2 separate regions of the Homo sapiens genome follow, and region 1 is linked to region 2. The links come from fine-mapping of genetic effects on gene expression. A gene starts in region 2. The other region holds a variant in brackets. All regions are shown on one strand. Distances are between the middles of the regions.

Region 1 (11,570 bases), 160 kb after region 2:
TCTATTGTCATTTTTAATTCAAAAGACTACAACTTTACTGTTATATTCTTAAACATAGTAAGCCTGTTTTTTTTTTTAAATCTATAAAATAAGGAACTTGGGTAAAATGTTCCTAATGTGCTTTTCATAGATAAAATTCTATTATTCAATAGGAAGTACTGAAAGGCGTACTTAGGATTGCTTATTTCTCTTACAAAAACCTCATCAGTATATGTTCTATGCTTCTATAAAAATGTATTACAGATGATTACTTTTAGAACTAAAATGAAAATATATATTAAGCACTTACTGGGGAATTAGGATTTTTATAATCATAGGACAGTAGTGAAAATTACTTGAAATCTGTTATAACTGAAAAACAATTCAAGGAATTTAATGACATTAATCTTTACATTTGAAGATAAGCCTGTGACTGTGTATATGTTGTAACTGTTACAATAAATGATAAAAACTAGCTTCTATTTTGGATTTTGTTATCTTGATTGCTTACTGAAAATATTAATGGAAGTAATGACACAGGAGTCAGGGAGAGGAAGGAGATGGGCTGTCCAAACATGTTTTCTGTTATCCATGTGTGAGCACTGCCTATGAACACTAAGGCAGGGGTCCCCAACCCCTGGGACCAGTACTGGTCTGTGACCTGCTAGGAACTGGGCCGTATAGCAGGAGGTGAGCAGTGGATGAGCAAGGGAGCATTACTGCCTGAGCTCTGCCTCCTGTCAGATCAGCAGCGTTCAATTCTCATAGGAGGGCTACCCTGTTGTGAACTGCACGTGCAAGGGATCTAGGTTGCACACTCCTTATGAAACTCTAATGCCTGATGATCTGAGGTGGAACAGTTTTATCCTGAAATCATCCCTCCAGCTTTGCCCCACATCCCCACTGTCCATGGAAAAATTGTCTTCCACGAAAATGGTTCCTGGTGCCAAAAAGGTTGGGGACCACTGCTCTAAGGAATATATTTAGAATTGCTGGAATAAATAATTTTTATCACTGGTGAATTGGCATATGGTTTTCTGTGTTTGATTTATATATTATTTAACTAAGTAAGTGTTCTGAAGAGGAATTTAGAAAAAGAGTATTTTATTCACTAGTAGGAACTTTAGTGCTCAGAGACATGTTTCTGCAGCCTGTCCCAGCATGTTATTTTTTGAACACATTGCATCTTCAGTATAGATGTGGTTTGAAACTTGGACTTCACTTTTAATTCACGTCATCTTGGTTAGGAAATTCAACTTCTCATTAGTGAAAATTTCTTATAAAAGCGAGAATAATGCTACCTATATTTTTTGGGATTGTTGTGAAGATTACACTTGATAAATTTAAACACCAATATATGTGTAAGGTGTACCATAAATTATTGATATATATATCATTGTAACCACTAATAGCAAATGTTTCTCAATGGCCTAGTAAGTAAAAGGTGTTTTGTTGATTCTGGGATTATAAAAAGATAGAATTTGTGGTCTTCATAGTTAGAAGCAGTATTTAAATAACGAACTTACTATTTGTAACAGTAGTTATTTACTTGCAATCTTTAAAAATTGTTATTTATTTATTTATTTATTTATTTATTATTATACTTTAAGTTTTAGGGTACATGTGCACAATGTGCAGGTTAGTTACATATGTATACATGCGCCATACTGGTGCACTGCACCCACTAACTCGTCATCTAGCATTAGGTATATCTCCCAATGCTATCCCTCCCCCCTCACCTCAAGCCACAACAGTCCCCAGAGTGTGATGTTCCCCTTCCTGTGTCCATGTGTTCTCATTGTTCAGTTCCCACTTATGAGTGAGAATATGCTGTGTTTGGTTTTTTGTTCTTGCAATAGTTTACTGAGAATGATGTTTTCCAATTTCATCCATGTCCCTACAAAGGACATGAACTCATCATTTTTTATGGCTGCATAGTATTCCATGGTGTATATGTGCCACATTTTCTTAATCCAGTCTATCATTGTTGGACATTTGGGTTTGTTCCAAGTCTTTGCTATTGTGAATAGTGCCGCAATAAACATACATGTACATGTGTCTTTATAGCAGCGTGATTTATAGTCCTTTGGGTATATCCCCAGTAATGGGATGGCTGGGTCAAATGGTATTTCTAGTTCTAGATCCCTGAGGAATCGCCACACTGACTTCCACAATGGTTGAACTAGTTTACAGTCCCACCAACAGTGTAAAAGTGTTCCTATTTCTCCACATCCTCTCCAGCACCTGTTGTTTCCTGACTTTTTAATGATTGCCATTCTAACTGGTGTGAGATGGTATCTCATTGTGGTTTTGATTTGCATTTCTCTGATGGCCAGTGATGGTGAGCATTTTTTCATGTTTTTTGGCTACATAAATGTCTTCTTTTGAGAAGTGTCTGTTCATGTCCTTTGCCCACTTTTTGATGGGGTTGTTTTTTTCTTGTAAATTTGTTTGAGTTCATTGTAGATTCTGGATATTAGCCCTTTGTCAGATGAGTAGGTTGCAAAAATTTTCTCCCATTTTGTAGGTTGCCTGTTCACTCTGATGGTAGTTTCCTTTGCTGTGCAGAAGCTCTTTAGTTTAATTAGATCCCATTTGTCAATTTTGGCTTTTGTTGCCATTGCTTTTCGTGTTTTAGACATGCAGTCTTTGCCCATGCCTATGTCCTGAATGGTAATGCCTAGGTTTTCTTCTAGGGTTTTTATGGTTTTAGGTCTAATGTTTAAGTCTTTAATCCATCTTGAATTGATTTTTGTATAAGGTGTAAGGAAGGGATCCAGTTTCAGCTTTCTACATATGGCTAGCCAGTTTTCCCAGCACTATTTATTAAATAGGGAATCCTTTCCCCATTGCTTGTTTTTCTCAGGTTTGTCAAAGATCAGATAATTGTAGATATGCGGCGTTATTTCTGAGGGCTCTCTTCTGTTCCATTGATCTATATCTCTGTTTTGGTACCAGTACCATGCTGTTTTGGTCACTGTAGCCTTGTAGTATAGTTTGAAGTCAGGTAGCGTGATGCCTCCATCTTTGTTCTTTTGGTTTAGGATTGACTTGGCGATGCGGGCTCTTTTTTGGTTCCATATGAACTTTAAAGTAGTTTTTTCCAATTCTGTGAAGAAAGTCATTGGTAGCTTGATGGGGATGGCATTGAATCTATAAATTACCTTGGGCAGTATGGCCATTTTCACGATATTGATTCTTTCTACCCGTGAGCATGGAATGTTCTTCCATTTGTTTGTATCCTCTTTTATTTCCTTGAGCAGTGGTTTGTAGTTCTCCTTGAAGAGGTCCTTCACATCCCTTGTAAGTTGGATTCCTAGGTATTTTATTCTCTTTGAAGCAATTGTGAATGGGAGTTCACTCATGATTTGGCTCTCTGTTTGTCTGTTGTTGGTGTATAAGAATGCTTGTGATTTTTGTACATTGATTTTGTATACTGAGACTTTGATGAAGTTGCTTATCAACTTAAGGAGATTTTGGGCTGAGACAATGGGGTTTTATAGATTTACAATCATGTCATCTGCAAACAGGGACAATTTGACTTCCTCTTTTCCTAATTGAATACCCTTTATTTCATTCTCCTGCCTAATTGCCCTGGCCAGAACTTCCAACACTATGTTGAATAGGAGTGGTGAGAGAGGGCATCCCTGTCTTGTGCCAGTTTTCAAAGGGAATGCTTCCAGTTTTTGTCCATTCAGTATGATATTGGCTGTGGGTTTGTCATAGATAGCTCTTATTATTTTGAAATACGTCCCATCAATACCTAATTTATTGAGAGTTTTTAGCATGAAGGGTTGTTGAATTTTGTCAAAGGCCTTTTCTGCATCTATTGAAATAATCGTGTGGTTTTTGTCTTTGGTTCTGTTTATATGCTGGATTACATTTATTGATTTGCGTATATTGAACCAGCCTTGCATCCCAGGGATGAAGCCCACTTGATCATGGTGGATAAGCTTTTTGATATGCTGCTGGATTCTGTTTGCCAGTATTTTATTGAGGATTTTTGCATCAATGTTCATCAAGGATATTGGTCTAAAATTCTCTCTTTTGGTTGTGTCTCTGCCCGGCTTTGGTATCAGGATGATGCTGGCCTCATAAAATGAGTTAGGGAGGATTCCCTCTTTTTCTATTGATTGGAATAGTTTCAGAAGGAATGGTACCAGTTCCTCCTTGTACCTCTGGTAGAATTCGGCTGTGAATCCATTTGGTCCTGGACTCTTTTTGGTTGGTAAGCTATTGATTATTGCCACAATTTCAGCTCCTGTTATTGGTCTATTCAGAGATTCAACTTCTTCCTGGTTTAGTCTTGGGAGAGTGTATGTGTTGAAGAATTTATCCATTTCTTCTAGATTTTCTAGTTTATTTGCATAGAGGTGTTTGTAGTATTTTCTGATGGTAGTTTGTATTTCGGTGGGATCGGTGGTGATATCCCCTTTATCATTTTTTATTGCATCTATTTGATTCTTCTCTCTTTTTTTCTTTATTAGTCTTGCTAGCGGTCTATCAATTTTGTTGATCCTTTCAAAGAAGCAGCTCCTGGCTCCTGGATTCATTAATTTTTTTGAAGGGTTTTTTGTGTCTCTATTTCCTTCAGTTCTGCTCTGATTTTAGTTATTTCTTGCCTTCTGCTAGCTTTT[G/A]AATGTGTTTGCTCTTGCTTTTCTAGTTCTTTTAATTGTGATGTTAGGGTGTCAATTTTGGATCTTTCCTGCTTTGTCTTGTGGGCATTTAGTGCTATAAATTTCCTTCTACATACTGCTTTGAATGCGTCCCAGAGATTCTGGTATGTTGTGTCTTTGTTCTTGTTGGTTTCAAAGAACATCTTTATTTCTGCCTTCATTTCATTATGTACCCAGTAGTCATTCAGAAGCAGGTTGTTCAGTTTCCATGTAGTTGAGTAGTTTTGAGTGAGATTCTTAATCCTGAGTTCTAGTTTGATTGCACTGTGGTCTGAGAGATAGTTTGTTATAATTTCTGTTATTTTACGTTTGCTGAGGAGAGCTTTACTTCCAGATATGTGGTCAATTTTGGAATAGGTGTGGTGTGGTGCTGAAAAATATGTATATTCTGTTGATTTGGGGTGGAGAGTTCTGTAGATGTCTATTAGGTCTGCTTGGTGCAGAGCTGAGTTCAATTCCTGGGTATCCTTGTTAACTTTCTGTCTCGTTGATCTGTCTAATGTTGACAGTGGGGTGTTAAAGTCTCCCATTATTAATGTGTGGGAGTCTAAGTCTCTTTGTAGGTCACTCAGGACTTGTTTTATGAATCTGGGTGCTCCTGTATTGGGTGCATATATATTTAGGATAGTTAGTTCTTCTTGTTGAATTGATCGCTTTACCATTATGTAATGGCCTTCTTTGTCTCTTTTGATCTTTGTTGGTTTAAAGTCTGTTTTATCAGAGACTAGGATTGCAACCCCTGCCTTTTTTGGTTTTCCATTTGCTTGGTAGATCTTCCTCCATCCCTTTATTTTGAGCTTATGTATGTCTCTGCACGTGAGATGGGTTTCCTGAATACAGCACACTGATGGGTCTTGACTCTTTATCCAATTTGCCAGTCTGTGTCTTTTAATTGGAGCATTTAGTCCATTTACATTTAAAGTTAGTATTGTTATGTGTGAATTTGATCCTGTCATTATGATGTTAGCTGGTTATTTTGCTCGTTAGTTGATACAGTTTCTTCCTAGTCTCGATGGTCTTTACATTTTGGCATGATTTTGCAGCGGCTGGTACCGGTTGTTCCTTTCCATGTTTAGCGCTTCCTTCGGGAGCTCTTTTAGGGCAGGCCTGGTGGTGACAAAATCTCTCAGCATTTGCTTGTCTGTAAAGTATTTTATTTCTCCTTCACTTCTGAAGCTTAGTTTGGCTGGATATGAAATTCTGGGTTGAAAATTCTTTTCTTTAAGAATGTTGAATATTGGCCCGCACTCTCTTCTGGCTTGTAGAGTTTCTGCCCAGACATCCGCTGTTAGTCTGACAGGCTTCCCTTTGAGGGTAACCCGACCTTTCTCTCTGGCTGCCCTTAACGTTTTTTCCTTCATTTCAATTTTGGTGAATCTGACAATTATGTGTCTTGGAGTTGCTCTTCTCGAGGAGTATCTTTGTGGCGTTCTCTGTATTTCCTGAATCTGAATGTTGTCCTGCCTTGCTAGAATGGGGAAGTTCTCCTGGATAATATCCTGCAGAGTGTTTTCCAACTTGGTTCCATTCTCCCCGTCACTTTCAGGTACACTAATCAGACGTAGATTTGGTCTTTTCACATAGTCCCATATTTCTTGGAGGCTTTACTTGTTTCTTTTTATTCTTTTTTCTCTAAACTTCCCTTCTCGCTTCATTTCATTCATTTCATCTTCCATCGCTGATACCCTTTCTTCCAGTTGATCGCATCGGCTCCTGAGGCTTCTGCATTCTTCACGTAGTTCTCGAGCCTTGGCTTTCAGCTCCATCAGCTCCTTTAAGCACTTCTCTGTATTGGTTATTCTAGTTATACATTCTTCTAAATTTTTTTCAAAGTTTTCAACTTCTTTGCCTTTGGTTTGAGTGTCCTCCCGTAGCTTGGAGTAATTTGTCTGAAGCCTTCTTCTCTCAGCTCGTCAAAGTCATTCTCTGTCCAGCTTTGTTCCGTTGCTGGTGAGGAACTGCGTTCCTTTGGAGGAGGAGAGGCGCTCTGCTTTTTAGAGTTCCAGTTTTTCTGCTCTGTTTTTTCCCCATCTTTGTGGTTTTATCTACTTTTGGTCTTTGATGCTGGTGATGTACAGATGGGTTTTTGGTGGGGATGTCCTTTCTGGTTGTTAGTTTTCCTTCTAACAGACAGGACCCTCAGCTGCAGGTCTGTTGGAGTACCCGGCCATGTGAGGTGTCAGTCTGCCCCTGCTAGGGGGTGCCTCCCAGTTAGGCTGCTCGGGGTCAGGGGTCAGGGACCCACTTGAGGAGGCAGTCTGCCCGTTCTCAGATCTCCAGCTGCATGGTGGGAGAACCACTGCTCTCTTCAAAGCTGTCAGACAGGGACCCTTAAGTCTGCAGAGGTTACTGCTGTCTTTTTGTTTGTCTGTGCCCTGCCCCCAGAGGTGGAGCCTACAGAGGCAGGCAGGCCTCCTTGAGCTGTGGTGGGCTCCACCCAGTTGGAGCTTCCTGGCTGCTTTGTTTACCTAAGCAAGCCTGGGCAATGGCGGGCGCCCCTCCCCCAGCCTCGCTGCCGCCTTGCAGTTTGATCTCAGACTGCTGTGCTAGCAATCAGGGAGACTCCGTGGGCGTAGGACCCTCCGAGCCAGGTGCGGGACAGGATCTCCTGATGCGCCGTTTTTTAAGCCCGTCAGAAAAGCGCAGTATTCGGGTGGGAGTGACCGGATCTTCCAGGTGCTGTCTGTCACCCCTTTCTTTGACTAGGAAAGGGAACTCCCTGACCCCTTGCGCTTCCCGATCGAGGCAATGCCTCGCCCTGCTTTGGCTGGTGCACGATGCGCACACCCACTGACCTGCTCCCACTGTCTGGCACTCCCTAGTGAGATGAACCCGGTACCTCAGATGGAAATGCAGAAATCACCCGTCTTCTGCCTTGCTCACGCTGGGAGCTGTATACCGGAGCTGTTCCTATTCGGCCATCTTGGCTCCTCCTAAAAATTGTTTTAAAGTTTGTATTGGATTTGAATTTTAGAGGCTTGCTAACTTTCCTTTAATAGTAACTCTCTGACTATCCTTACCCTTTTACCAACCAGGCTAGCAAAGTTGAACCACCAGTTTTAATGTTCTCACTTTTCATCTGTGGACCTAGACATGAAAACAATGGAGGCTAAGATGGGATTTTTGAGTTAACCTGCTCTCCACTGACTTTTTGAGTGGACGGTGGAGGTACTTCTCATGAAATACCAAGGTAGAAAGTGAACTTTACCCTTGTTGCATTTTGGCATGGCTTGCTTACAGCTTTTATTCATGTTAAAAGGTAAATTTATGACATGGAAATAAATAGTCATAAGTTTAGATTACGGATCCCAGCTGTCAGACTCTCCAGCCAGAGTGGGTCCTGTGGTGTCCAGCCTTCTCTGCTCTGCTTCTCTAGCCTTGACTAGTGCTTCATAGAACTATGTATGATACATTTTTGGTTACTATCATAGCCTCCCAACTCCTTTACAATTTTAGCTAATATTCTGTCTGCTATTATCTTAGCCTGTAGAAATGAAATGATCATGTAGGTTCATACATGTGTACATTGTTGTCTATGATACAGTCTCACTTGTAAAAAACTTCCTCAACAATAATCCATACTCTTAGTATTTTTGTAGCAGTTCGGAACTACTGGAGGTGAAGTCACTACCAAGTTCTGAATGTTTGTGAGGTGAGGAAACCACTAACATGTGAGAATATTTCCCAAAATCACTTCCTACCACAATATTTATGTTTCCAAGAAATTAACTGAACATTTACAATTTACTAAATACTTTAATGATTTATATATAACAATGTATATATTTTTTACAACAATTTAGGTGGGTACTATTATTATTCCTGTTTTGAGGATGAGAACATGAAGAAATGGAGAGTCCTACAGCTGGCCTCCTAAGTGGCCTGATGTACCACAGTTAGGAAGGGGCAGAGTTGAGACTACAACCCAAGTCGTGTGGGCACAGAGTCTGTACCTTTGGCATTTGCATTGCCAGTCTTTGAGGGGAGGTTTGGTTTTCCCATTTAGAGTTGGCAGAGGAGAGCAGGATGGAAGAGATGACCTCCACAGGATAATTCCAGGCTCTCAGAGCCAGAGAATCTTTTTCTCAATGCATAGTTTGAATTGGGCCTCTGGATCAGGGACCACGTGATGTAATAGCCCCAGTACGATAATATTTTGGATTGATGCTTTTCTTGTAATCTAGTCTCAGGCTGGAAAATGTATCTAGTTTATCAAGCATCATAAGGTCAACATTGGAGAATAGGCAACTAGAAGTCAGACTTGGAATTCACTGGTTCAAATTTCTTACATAGTATAATTTATGTATGTAATAAACATTAGTAGTAATACATGCCATTATCTGCCTTTAACCAAAGTTCTAAAACAGTGGTTCTCCCTTGTTATTTTGCAACACTTTGGGAGTGTTATGAAATTATAATATTAAAATGTTCCTACTAATATATAAAACACCTATGATATTATTGTGCCTTTTGGTGGGTGGGAATGAGGGTTTTGGATGTGGTCAAACTTCACTAAAAGTGTTAATAACCATGTAAGAGTGTGGAGAATATTTTTATTTATTTTGCTTTTTACCTATCCTCTGTAATGCCAAGTGTGAATAACTATTTGATAAAAATTGAAGAGAAACACGAGACTGAGGTTAAACAGGCTGAGTGAGGAGGCGGATGCAAATAGTGAGAGGAATAGCCTGATTTTTCCAAGGACAAGGATTTAGGCTGATGGGATGTATTATTCGGGGGCTGGGTGAGGCAGGGAGAGGAGGCTGAAATATGAGGAGAGGCTAAAGAAGGCAGAAATCTTCATTTTAAGAATCAGTGCTGTCTGTAACAAAAGAACCATTCCAGTGTCTCAAGGCAGCAGCAGGATGCTGTCTGTTCCAACAACTCATGGTAATTGGAGAAGGACGTTTCCCAGGCAGCTAAAAGTAAAGAAACAGAAAGGATTCTGCCTTATGGAAAAGCTCACTAACACAGAGACAGCAGAACAGGTGCGGGGCTGGAGGGCTTTGAAGATGTTGCAGAAGCAGGAAGCAGAGAGCATTGAGTTGTAGCATCCAGGCCCTACTCCCAGATTTGCTAGGGATGGTTGGCACTGTTACAGGGCCCAGTTCAAGTGCCTGAGAAAATGACTTCAGTGTGTGAGACATGCCAAGGGTTATACTATTTCTACCTTCTAGAATAGGGTGTAGGAAACTGGATGGGAGGGAAGGGTTGCACTGAATCAGCCAGAGGGCTGAGCTTTGCACCATGACCCTTCCCACTATGGCAATGATGTGGCATCTCACTGGCCAGCACATTGGTAATTTGAGTATGTCTTTTGTTATGTTCTCTGTATTTAGAATTAAGGGAGTTCAGACACTGTAAAGAGAAGGTGTAATATGTTAAGGCTTTTAAAATGTGAATTTTTTGGCATATATGGTGGAGAAAGCAAATGCTTAGTTGTGTGACAGGGATCAGAGTCTCCTTAGAAACTAATTAACAAAGTGTCCAGTATATTAATTATTTAAATTCATAAAATCATGGACTTGTATTAGATGATCTTTCAGGTTTTTTTCCATACATAAAGTTTCACAGTACTTCACACACTACAGTTTCTTTCTATATAGTCTATGATGACCTCTTCATTTTACCCTCAGACACAAGCTTTTACGGTTGGCCTTTTGTGGTCTTTTTTGGTATTGATAGTTTAGATTGAATTTTTGGTTCCTGGCATTTGGCTTACTTACTGATTTTTTTCTCATCTTGTGTCTCAAGAGAGCTTTCTTAAAATAAAATTCAGTCTCTCTTTTGTTTTCAGCATGATTGCATCTAATTATGTAATTAGGCTAAATACATGCAATCAGGAGCAAGTAATAAATATTAGATTCTAACTCTGTAAATTTTGTTTTTCGTAGTAAATGCCTCAGGGGCAGAGCTTTTTTATTTATGCCTGCTAATACCTTCCACAGTGTTGTACATGTACCAAGAACTCAGTAGTTATTTGTTGAATTAATGAAGTATTTTTAAGATGCAATGCAAATCTCATCTAAAAATATGCAAATTCTCTCGAGACGCTAGAAATATTTTTCAAAGTTATTTAAAGCCATATTATGTTTGGACCATGTACTGGTTTAGGCTAAATTGATTTATCAAGCTGTATGTTTGGCACAGTGGTGGCTATGACTACATTAGTTGTCTTGGAAGAAAAATGATTTTTATAGGTCATAAGTTAGGTCAGTTAGTCATCATAGATTTACTGTGTTTCTGACACTGTTTCCTTAGATTTGATCTGGCTTTTCTCTTGTACATTTGAAGCTTATTTAGGAGTGTGTCAGAACAAGCTGTCTCACCTGCCTGAATTGTTAGCCTTTAGGGCAGGGACAATGTTGTTATGTTATGTTCAGAGCAGGGCACAGGAGAGAGTTGCCTGGATCATAAAGAATGGTGATGAGCTCAAGTTGGTGACCTGGTTCCTCTGTTCAGACACTATGGGCTGGAAAGGATGTGCCATATTTCTCAGGGGTTTTTCCTAATAACCCCTCTGCAGCTATCCTGCACCTTGTTACAAAGTCTTCTTTTACATTACTTTGTAAACATGTACCTGTAATGTAACTTCCATTTTTCAAGCATTCCAATGTTACAAGCACATAAAAATACACCTTGTTTTATTTGTGTTTTTATACTCAATACCTAGCAAAATTCCTGGCATACGGAGAAGTTTGAAATGCTTGTTGAGTCAAATAGAGCTGGTGCCTGTGGCAGTGGATAATCAGGCAGTCGAAAGCAGATTAAAATCTCAAATCTAGGTGGATAAGCTGTTGATGTGCTGCTGGATTTGGTTTGCCAGTATTTTATTGAGGATTTTCACATCTATGTTCATCAGGGATATTGGCCTGAAACTTTCTTTTTTTGTTGTGTCTCTACCAGGTTTTGGTA
Region 2 (11,570 bases):
TTAACACCCTCATTTAACACAGTCAAAAAATTTTAACTTTTTTTTCCTTGAGTTTTACACCCTATTCCATCTATCAGTTGCCAATACAGCTGTGGAATAAAAAGTCCTAAAACCTCTCATAACAGCCTTCCAGGAGGTTAGTTTCTTTAGCTTTCCTTCTCAGTAACTTTGAGGCTATCCCTAAGGAGCCTCTTTTTCAGTTTTTAGGTAAGGAGCCTGCTGGGAATGCAGTGTCACAGGAAACTAATTCTTGAACAGGGCAGATTGGTCACAGGCCCAGTATATTTTAATATATTTATTCTGTAAATGGGCTTTTTAAAGTAAATAATAACAAAGTAAACTCTCAGAGATGAAACATTGTTAGACATATTTATTATACTACCACAGGAGAAATATTTCAAGAAAAATAAGGCTAAAAACTGTTGGAGATAATACCTTCAAGGCATTTTCTACCATCTTAGGTAGTAATCTGAAATGTCCAGGGAATTTTTAACCCATTTTAAAATGCATTTTTAGGCAGGGTGCAGGGGATCACACCTGTAATCCCAGCACCTTAGGAGGCAGAAATGGGAGAATCATATGAGGCCAGGTATTAGAGACCAGCCTGGGCAACACAGTGAGATCCTGTCTTTACACAAAATTAAAAAAATATATATATCAGCCAGGCATGGTGGTGCATGCCTGTAGTCCTAGCTACTAGGGAGGCTGGGGTGGGAGGATCATTTGAGCCCAGGAATTTGAGGCTGCAGTGAGCTATGATCATGATTGCTCCATCCTGAGTCACAGAGCAAGACTCTGTCTCAAAATATTTTTAAATGTCTTTATTATTGTTTCTTGGTAGGAAACAATACAAAGGTAAGATTCTCCTTCACTGTGCATGCCAAATCAACAAGACCCAAATCTAAGTATTATTAATAGATCCTTTTTAACTTACAGGATATATAAGCAGACACAGTCATGAAATGGTCAATCTACATACAAGCAGTTAGAGCTGTACCCAGAATCTTAAAAAGAAAATCAATCTTGTACAAAATTTCTCTGGTCTGTTACAATATGCATTCTTTTTTTTTAAATTTTTTTTTGAGACGGAGTCTGGCTCTGTCACCCAGGATGGAGTGCAGTAGCACGATCTCTATTCACTGCAACCTCTGCCTCCTGACTTCAAGCGATTCTACTGCCTCAGCCTCCTGAGTAGCTGGGATTACAGGCATGCACTGCCACACCCGGCTATGTATTTTAAAAGAGATGGGGTTTTGCCATATTGACCAGGCTGGTCTCGAACTCCTGACCTCAAGTGATCCACCCGTCTCGGCCTCCCAGAAAGTGCTGTCATTACAGGTGTGAGCCACCACCCCTGGCCAACGATATGAATTCTCAACAACAACAAAAAAGTACTGCCCCTAACAGCATTCCACCCAAGAAAAGCTTATGTAAAACATTTATACAGCCCATAGAAGCATAAACCAGATGAAGACAATGTGCCTATGGCTACTCTTCAGGTATTTTTAGTGACTGAGTCTATTACCTATTATCATAAATCTTACCATGAGCTCTCGTTTTTCCTAAGGAGTCTGAAATACAGCATTTTAATAGGCAGTACCCAACCTGACAACTGGATTAAATGCTAAAAATGCATTTATATCTATTTGTTGTTTGCACTTCTAGGTACAATTTCTTATAGAACGACTGCAGAGAAATTCAGCCTATGTGACCTAAAATACAGTTGAATGAGTACTTACTGCCCCTCTGTTCTTACTATTAATGAAGAAGACAGGTATCCTAGTGCCCTGTAGAGAAGGAATTTCTGAAACGTGAAGGACTGTGTGTTACCCTCAGAGAGGCACTTATGCACCTTCTTTATCCTTATTAGTTGTTCCTAAAACCTAAGATACAGGTATGGCAACTATAATCACTATGAGAATACATGTATATATATAACCCAGGAACCAAGCAAAACAAAATGCCAATTGTCCTCTCTGAAGATCAGCACCCTTGAAAAGTTCACACAATTCAAGTTTATACTTTTAATTATTTTCCTGAGGGACATGAAAATAACTGGAACAAAACAAAATAACAGTCTGAATTGTATGAACTGTATAAAGGAATTCAGCACAAAGCCTGGAAGCAGAATGCTTATGATCTGGTATGATTCACACCCCCTCTTTTCTACTTATAGAATGGCAGAAATCATAAAGCAAAACCATTGTAAATTTAACTTGGAAATGTAAAGAGCAATGTCAAATGTCCCAAGTCTATAGTTTAAGTGATTATAGAAAGAAATAATAGGCTTTACTAGTCACTGATAAACAATGTGGTTTAAAACATTTTCAGATTTGTTAAAATTTAAAGGAAACTAGTCTTATTTATGGATTTAATATTCATATTAACTTTTCCAATATCACAGAGTATCTCAAAACACTTTCAACAGTAAAGATGAGATTAACTTATTTCCAAAAACCCTTTGATGTATCATTAGTACAAACAACATGCAATTACACTACATTTTGAGACAAACAGAATGAATATGCTACCAAAGCAGCATGACATACAACACCATGCTAATAGTAGATGACAAGCAAACCTTAAAATTAGGGATGACGGGTGTGATGTTTTTGCATAGAAGTGATAGCTGACCCAGAAGGGCAGGCATCGGTGGCCTTATAGAGAAGCAGATTGGGATGCTAATAAAAATTGTAGGGGTAAGGAAGAGAAGGACAGGAGAATTAAGCTACAAAGCAAAGATGTGAAATATCTCCATTTTGCCTGTATGTTATCCACCCATCCAACCAACCAGTTATTAAAATACTTAAAAGGAACTAGACACTTATCAAGTCTTGTTCTTACTTGGGTCAAAGGCACATACAGTGTTTGCATGGTTGCATAAAAGTGCAATTTGATCTCAGTACAGAAAAATCTAATTGGTACTCACTCATTGAATTCACCCTCAACCTTGGTCTCATTAGTAAGTGCTCACTGACTGAAACTTTGCAACTTTTGGGTCAGTTGGTCCTCTAGCCATACATTCAACTCTGAGAAAGTCTCTAACCTAATCTGTTTTTAGCTTCAATGGCCTCTCCTGCCAGATAAAACCAAAGTAAGGAAATAGAATGTCTTGCGAAAAGCTGTGGAAACGCACAGGCAACTGGAATAATGGAGCCATATCCCAGATACAACTTGGAGCTATAACTTATCTCTTGACTTCTAAATTAAGACACAGATTAATGGCGCATACATATATATATATAACCTTATATCTATATATATCTCCTAGCATTAAACCAGGGACTGCTCTCAACCTTGTTCAACATAATGTTCAGTATATTTACTGCAAAAGGACACGCTTTCGGAGAAAAACAATGCCGTACAGCAATGTGCAAATCACTTGATCCTATAAAGGGTCAGTTTCCTTTCTGTAAAACAGGGTTATTTATCATTACCCTGCCTCATAGTGCCACTGAGAGGCTCAAACAACACAGTGAATGTGAAACTGCTGAAGTATTTTTACTATGTAAGGTGCTCCTTTTGTGAACGTCTAAACTTTCTTCTAATAAGAGCTTTACTGTAAGGTTCTTTAGAATATCCATATAAAGAAGATCTAAATTAATAGGGTTTTGGAGGTGGCGATGGAGAAAAATGATGATTGGGAGGGATACTGGGTCAGAATATAAGGCGTTAGTTCTGGAATTACAGTGAAGTCCTGATGCAAAACCAGAACAGTTATGTGCTTACCCTCTGCAGACCCTGGCCAACTCCCTCGCTGCCCGCCCGCCTCCTCCGCCCGACTGTTACTTTTAGGTGAACTACTGGGGAGAAGTTGAGTGTGGTGGTGTATGGGGAGGGACTTTCAACCCTGAAGATCAACTTCTTCCCCAATCCCTTTAACAAACACTCCTCCTCCTCTTCGGGCCTTGTTCAGTTAGCCGAAACTATTTCTGGTAAGAAAATGGCTGTTACAAAATTTCTTTTAGGCAGCGTCCTATGAGTACCTACTCCTTCCCTCACCATGAACTATTTCTAACAGATTCAGAGTCAGAAAATCGTGTTATGTGTATGTTTTGTTTCTTCCAAGGCTCACCCACAGGCCTCACCCTCCCAGTCTTAACGCTCCCATATATAAAATGAAAAGTGACAGCGCCTGTCAGCTCCATCCCACGGCCACCAAGAGGATGAATGAGTGCCTGGAAGGCGCCAGAAGTGGTGTCTGTTAAACACCCCGTCCACCACTGTTTATAAAGTATCGTGATGAGTCCCGTTATGCCTTTCCGCTCAAGGAAACCGCCTAGTTAGAACCAACACTCTCCGTCACTGAGGAAGGCAACACTGAAGTTGGCCGGGCACGTATTATGCACAGAATCTGTGTCGGGGTGCGGGGACGGAGCGACCCCCCGTTACCGGGCGGGGCGGGGCTCAGGGCAAGCCTACCTGTTGTTCCGGATGCTGACCAGCACGCAAAGCACCAGCTCCAAGTAGGTGCGCAGCACTTCCAGCCAACGAGCTGAGAGCTGCAGGGCCTCGACTTCCTCCCCTCCAGTCCCGGTGTCCGCGCCACCTCCGTCCCCTGGGCCACCGCCGCTCAGATAGTTCTCGGCGGCGAATTCAACACGCAGCTCTCGCACGAACCAGCCGCACTTGCGCATGAGGAATTCCAGCCGAGGCTGCTCCGCGGGCGAGACGCGGAGGCAGATGCGGAGCTGGGGCCACAGGGCCGGATAGAAGAGGCACTCACGCCAGTGCGAGCAGGAGGCCGAGGCCCGCAGCCGGTCGGGCGCCGGCAGAAAAGAGAAGATGTGCACGATCAGCTCGCTGGGCAGCGACGCAGCGCCCGCCGCCTGCCCGCACAGAGCCATCCGGCCCCGCCGCCGGCTGCCGGCTCCCGGCCGCCCCCGCAGTACCCGGAGCAGCCCCCGCAGCCGTCGCAGCTGCTGCAGCCGCAGCCGCCGCCACCGCGCCACCCGGGCGGCCCCGGCTCGGGTTCGAGCTCCCGGCGGTCGGGGCTGCGGCACTGACAAGAACAACAACATCAATGACTAGGAAGAAGGGGGCGGAACCGTCGTGGGTCTCGGCGGAACCAAGTAGAACACAAGTTGTGGAGAGGGGGAAAGGCCTCTGCGGGCGTGGCCTGCCGGGAGCCAGCCTCTGTCTTCTCAAACTCTACTCACGTGCGTCCGAGGCCGGCACACTGAGTAACTGCACTGCCCTCGCTCGTAAACTTCAGCGGCCCGGAAGCCTCAAGGCGTACTGTAAGGAAAAGGCAGCCCTCCCTGCGCCGGTCGGCAGAGACAGAGAAGTGGTAGGAGCTGAGTTTGACGTCGCCGCTGGTGGGAGGAGTCCGGCGCGCACCGGCGCGACTTCCGGAAGAGGGGAGCGCCCGATTGCCTGTAGGGACGGGAGGCGCGGCACGTGATCTCTGACGCACGCAGGCCGCGGGGCGGGGCGGGGCTGGGCGGGGCGGGGCGGGGCGGGGCTGGGCGGGACTGGAACCGGCACTTGGCACCCCTTACGCCTTACGGTGGCCGCTGCGCCCAGTCACATCTGTAAGTCGGTTAATTTTGGCGCTCGGTCGATGGAGGTGGCGGTACTCTGGTTTAGTGCGAAAGGTCGTCACGCTTCTTTGTAAAACGTTTCTCAGTTTGGGCTGAGGACCCTGAGCCAAAGTGGCGGCATGCAGGGTCTTTCTCAGCCATCCCACCTGCCCAGAGTAGGGTTAAGAATTCCTGAGATTGCGCCGCTGAGAGGGAGCTGGCGGACGGGCGGGCTAACCCCGGCGGGCTGTGCCGGGAGGGGCGGTGTGGGGCGTGGCGGAGGCCGCGAATGGACCTGCCCCCTCGGTCCAACCACGCAGGTGGACTTCCGCGCACTCGCTGGTGTGTGGGGAAGCAGTGAGGACAGCGTCACCCTTTGGATTCAGAGGGAGAGAAAAAAATTGGCAAAGGGATCTGAGATCCGCAGGTTGTGACCAGCCTCTTCTCCAGGGCTTGAGGAAGGGTCTCTTTTCCCTGTGCTGAGATTTAAGGCTCTCGTTGAAAAGTTCACAGTAATGACAGAGCTTTGATTTTTTTTCTTTCTTCTTCTTCTTTTTTTGCCTGGTATCCCTAACTTAGATTTTCCAAACCATGTCCCTAACTTCACCACAGCCTACTGCAAAGTAAACTCTGGTTGCAAAGAGTGGTGAAGTCAGAAAAGATTAAGTGACTTTATGTAATAATCGAGGGTTGCTTTAGGGAGGCTGCCTCTTTATGTAATAATTGAGAGTTGCTTTAGGGAGGCTGTGATGTTGGAATAGCATCGTTCTTTTGTGGTAAACACCAAGACTTTTTGGACTTTTTTTTTTTTTTTTGGTTTTAAGGAGCGGAGAATTTAATAGGCAAGAAAGAAGGAAGAAGGCTGAAGGAAGAAGCTCCCCACTACAGAGACAGACGGAGGGGGCTCCCAAGACGAAAGAGGAGACCCCCATTCTAGATGTTCTTAACCCTTTGAGGGCAAAGCTCTCCGTTTAATGCCTTGCACATATCAGGTTGCCAACAACATGGTGTGGTTTATCAATTGTGATAGGTTACTTATTCGAGCCCCTGTTTACAAGAGTTTTAGGTAATTATACCTTATTAATTTTAATGAACTCTTAGAGGGCGACCCCAGTCGTGGGTTCGGCAGGATGAAACACTACCCATTTACCAGTTTACAGACATTTAGGTCGTTTCGAGTTATGAATAATGCTGTGAACATTCATGTGCAAGTCTTTATGTGGACGTATGTTTTAATTTGTCTTGGGTAGATACCTAGGAATGAAAGTGATGGGTCGTAGGGTAGTTCTATGTATAACTTTTTGAGAAACGGAAACTTTTTCCAAAGTGGCTGCATCATTTTTCATTCCCACCAGCCATGTATGAGGGTTTCCAGTTCTCTGACTTTTTTTTTTTTAATATTCTAGAAATGCACTGTAATTTGAGATTGATATTTTTTTCTTAGCATTTTGCTAGCAACAAGCTACCATCTTGGAGATCATTAATAATTAGTCTTTAATTATTAGGAATGGTTCCTGAGTAAAATGAAAATATGTCAGTCTGCCATAAATGAAATTCATTATTTTAGAATTTCAAACTTTCTTCTTAAATGAAGTGTGGTAGGAATCCTATTTTAACAACTGTAAGCTAAAGAATTAGCTGTGAATCTTGCCCAGTTTCAATAATAAATCAGTGAATTCCAATGGTTGCACAAAATTTATCTTATCAGGCCAATATATTTACTATTAATTAAATGTATATTGAGTATGTATATTTAGCATGTTAAGTGAGTTAGATTCTTTTGACATATATTCTATACTGCTAAAATAAAATTGACTCATATAGGACAGAATGGAATTACATTTTGTGAAGTTATAAAATCTGAGCTATGATTCAGAGTGTGGGAGGAAGTACTGACGTTATGAAGCTCATAAGTACCTAGTAGTACTAAGCTCCAGGTTCCAAAAGTGGCATATTGTCACTATAGCAACCACCATGCTTATTTGGATTTGAAACCCAGGCAACGAATGGTGGATAGGACTATAATATTAAGGTAGGTATCTGCTCTGGTGGATTGATATGCCTGCCTGTTGATAGTCAATGGTCTGTTCTGTTTTTCTTGTTATACTCATGGTTAATTCTTTTAGAGATAAATTAAGCACTTAATATTTTTATATTTCTCCTTTTCTAACATGCTAAGTTTAGTGTTTTTCCTAGTTAGGTAATTGGGGTATTAAATATATCTTACTATAGCTTTCTTTCCATTTTTGCTTAAGTTTGGCAACTTTCTTTGGGTTAAATATAACTTTTATTATACTGAATCACTTGCAATTTTATAATAGAAAAAAGTAACCATGACAGATTTTATTTTAGCTGCATCATGAAACGATGTTCAAGGCTACCAGTAAACATGAAAATTGCCTAAATTCTAATATTTCTTGAAAAAATACAGTTTTCTGAGTGATGTCTGGGTTTCAGACATTGTTGACAGGTAGAGGTGACATAATACCCTTCCAATTATCTCTTAGCATGCACCCATAAATTTACCTAGAGGCACAGGAACCTCCTGCGACAGTAGATCTGGGTACCTCATTCCCGTCACCCTTGTCTGGTGGATTGAAGTGTTTCCTAGTGGAATCATATTACAGTAAAAAGAAATGAGGGATTGAAGGGAATTCATCTTTAGAGGAGGAAGTCTGCGTTGGTGAGCTACATGACAGAGGACCGCGTCATTGGTTTGTCAGTCTAGGTGTAGCATGTCGCTGATATCACAACTTTTTCTAACCAAGCCACTCATGAGTTGATTGTGCAAGACCTCTCTCCATAAAGCAGGGATTGATAGTTCATATATCAAAGGAATCAGATACGTGTAGTGAGAGAAGAATTGGGTACTGTGCAATATAGGGAGATGGAAAGATTTTGTCTTACAGGAGGATGCTTTTCGCAAGTGGGAAAGTGGGCTCTGTGTTTCCAGATTTCCTAGTTTTTCAAAAGTAACTAAAATCCTCATTTTTAAAAAGGTTAAACCTTCAGATTGCCAATTTATTTACATTAAAAATATTCTGTGGGCATAACAAAACCAGATTTAGTCTTCAGGGCACCAGATTTCAAATTCTTTACCAAAGTTCTCAAAACTGTGGGCCAAGGCCATATTTTGTCTCTGTAGCTAGGCCTACTAGCTAATCCCCGCATTTTAAGTCCACTTCCAGAGCTATTTTTTTCCCTATCTATCCCATTTAGTTAAAAAATGAATTCAAAAGGTTTAACTTGAATGCCTGTTTTATTGCATTACTGATTTCTTCCCTTTTATTTAAGAGGATGGGTGTTTTCAGAGGTACCCTTTATTGCTTAAGTACATATTAAAAACTAAGTGTTATGTTTAACACAGCTGGTTCAACCAATAAAATTCCTTGACTTCTAGTTAAAATCAGTAATTGACTAATGATCCTCGTTGGAGTTGTGCAGCTTAGATTATAGGCAGGATCCCCCAACGGGGCTCACGGGACTGTTACTTAAGAGGCACAGTCTCCAAAGTAGTCATTTTAATTGGGTTCCTTTGGTTGTTTAACCTAACTAGCTTAAGCACTGAGAGGATTTTCTTTTCTCCTTCCCTCTGGCCCTCTTCCTCCTCTTCCTGGAGTTTTGAGGACATCCACAGGTATCCTTTGATGTGTAGGGACCGGAATGGAAAACTAAAAGCAGGAGCTAAGGTTACTCTCTTCATCTCTGAGTACCACAGTTTCTTGGAATCTTCATCAAGCTTTTCCAGGTCATACTGGCTGAGTAATCTTAAGACTTTGTCATGAAGAAATATATTATTCATGGCTAATTACTGCAATATTCTCATTGCAGAATTTAATATTTAATCCTTTGGAAAATCTTTTTAGCCCATTAGGTGCTGAAAAGGAGAAATGAAGTGAATATTTTCATATAGTAGCATTAATTGGAATGTTGTCTTGCTCTAGGCCAAAGGGGTTTCACTTGATGTGCCAATTTTAATTAGTTTTGCAGGCTGAGAAGTACTATGTTAAGAAAGATTTTGAGGTTGTCCTCATTCTACTGGAAGGAGTATCATTTGATTTGTGATGTCTGCCATAGTTGGAAAGAATTGGTGACCTGTTTAGGTAATTATTGTCTAATGTGACTATATATTAGTGTTTGTTTTCTACATTTGTTGCACTGTGCAGATACATTCTTTAGTGAATTGTATTCATGCTAATTCCTTATTTTATGAATAGCAACAGATCACTTAAATAAGTTTTATAAATTATTTCAAATTAGGAATTTTTATAATATAGCTACAACGTATTAAGTAAATTTTGACATCTATAGATGAATCAACTCGTAACTGAATTATCTGGGAATGTGAATCAGTTCTTCATTTATATTGAATATTAAAAGGGGAGTCATACTTTCATACCACAAGGAAAATAAAACAAATTTTTCATTCACTTGAAGGTTATGGAATTTCTTCCATAGTATTCAGTTTATGTAGGAAGATTCTCATATCTCTAAAATCTAACCCTTTAGCAAGAAATTTCTAGTAGAAATTCATTACATTTTTTTTCTTAAGAGTAATACATGACCATGGTAACAAAAAAATGTAGTACAAAAGTACTGTTGATGAAAAGCAACAGATTTTCATCTCTTGCCTCCCATTGTCAGGCCTACTCCCAGAAACATTTTTAACAATTTTGATGTTAGATTCATTAGGTAATTTTATTTCATTTAATTCATTTTTCTTTTTTTCCCCCATACCTTGCTCTCTTCCCTCCCCCTCCCCACCAGTAGTCCCCAGTGTCTGTTGTTGCCATGTTTATATCCATGAGTACCCAGTGTTCAGCTCTCACACGTGAGAACATCGGTATTTGGTTTTCTGTTCCTGCATTAATTCACTTAGGATAATGGCCTTCAGCTGCATCCATGTTGCTGCAAAGGACATGATTTTTCTTATTTTTAATGGCTGTATAGTATACCATGGTATATATGTACCACATTTTCTTTATCCAGTTCATATGATGGTCATCTAGGTTGATTCCATGTCTTTGCTATTATGAATAGTATTGTGGTGAACATGCGAGCATGTATGTCTTTTTGGTAGGATGATTTGTTTTCTTTTGGATATATATCCAGCAGCGGGGTTGCTGGATCGAATAGTACTTCTAAGTTCTTTGGGAAATCTCCAAACTGCTTTCCACAGTGGCTGAACTAATTTACATTTCCACCAGAGTGTATAAGTGTTCCCTTTTCTCTGCAGCCTTGCCAACATCTGTTATTTTTTGACTTTTTAAATAACAGCCATTCTGACTGGTGTCAGATGGTATCTCGTGGTTCAGATTTGAATTTCTCTGACGGTTAGTGATGTGGAATATTTTTTTCATATGTTTGTTGGCTGCTTATGTGTCTTATTTAGGAAAGTGTCTATTCATGTCTTGCCCATTGTTTAATGGGGTTATTTGTTTTTCGCTTGTTCAGTGGTTTAAGCTCTTTTAGATTCTGGATATTAGACCTTTGTTTGTGGTGTAGTTTGCAAATATTTTCTCCCATTTTGTAGGTTGTCTATTTACTCTGTTGATAGTTTCTTTTGCTGGGCAGAAGGTCTTTAGTTTAACTAGGTCCCACTCGTCAAATTTTGTTTTTGTTGCAATTGCTTTTGATAATTTAGGCATAAATTATTTCCCAAGGCTGATGTCCAGAATGGTGTTTCCTAGGTTTTCTTCTAGGATTCTTGTAGTTTGAGGTCTTACATTGAAATCTTTCATCCATCTTGAGTTAATCTTTTTATATGGTGAAAGGTAGGGGTCCAGTTTAATTCTTTTGCATATGGCTAGCTAGCTACCCCAGCACCATTTATTGAATAAGGAGCCGTTTCTCCATTGCTTATTTTTGTCAACTTTGTCAAGGATTAGAAGGCTGTAGGAGTGTGGCTTTGTTTCTGGGTTCTCTATTCTGTTCATTGGTCTATGCTGTCTGTTTTTATATCACTACTATGTTGTTTTGGTTACTATAGCCTTATAGTACAGTTTGAAATCAGGTAATGTGATGCCTCTGGCTCTGTTCTTTTTGCTT

The links.
Region 1: its variant is fine-mapped to the expression of FBXO33 in whole blood (INTERVAL, PIP above 0.99).

The regions. Positions count from the first base shown.
Region 1 is chr14:39,582,703-39,594,272 of GRCh38, forward strand. All of the region lies in intron 2 of LOC105370461 (a long non-coding RNA gene), which reads left to right. Among named protein-coding and RNA genes, the nearest start is that of FBXO33, 160 kb to the left of the region's middle. RefSeq lists an enhancer at 6,682-7,271. The variant G/A (reference allele first, on the strand shown) is at 4,617.
Region 2 is chr14:39,427,142-39,438,711 of GRCh38, forward strand. FBXO33 (F-box protein 33) reads right to left here and starts at 5,292. Exons shown (of 4, transcript NM_203301.4): 1 at 4,423-5,292. The coding sequence starts at 5,021. LOC105370461 (a long non-coding RNA gene) reads left to right here and starts at 5,298. Exons shown (of 8, transcript XR_007064121.1): 1 at 5,298-5,378. RefSeq lists silencers at 4,281-4,410, 4,851-4,980, 5,721-5,890 and an enhancer at 5,081-5,330.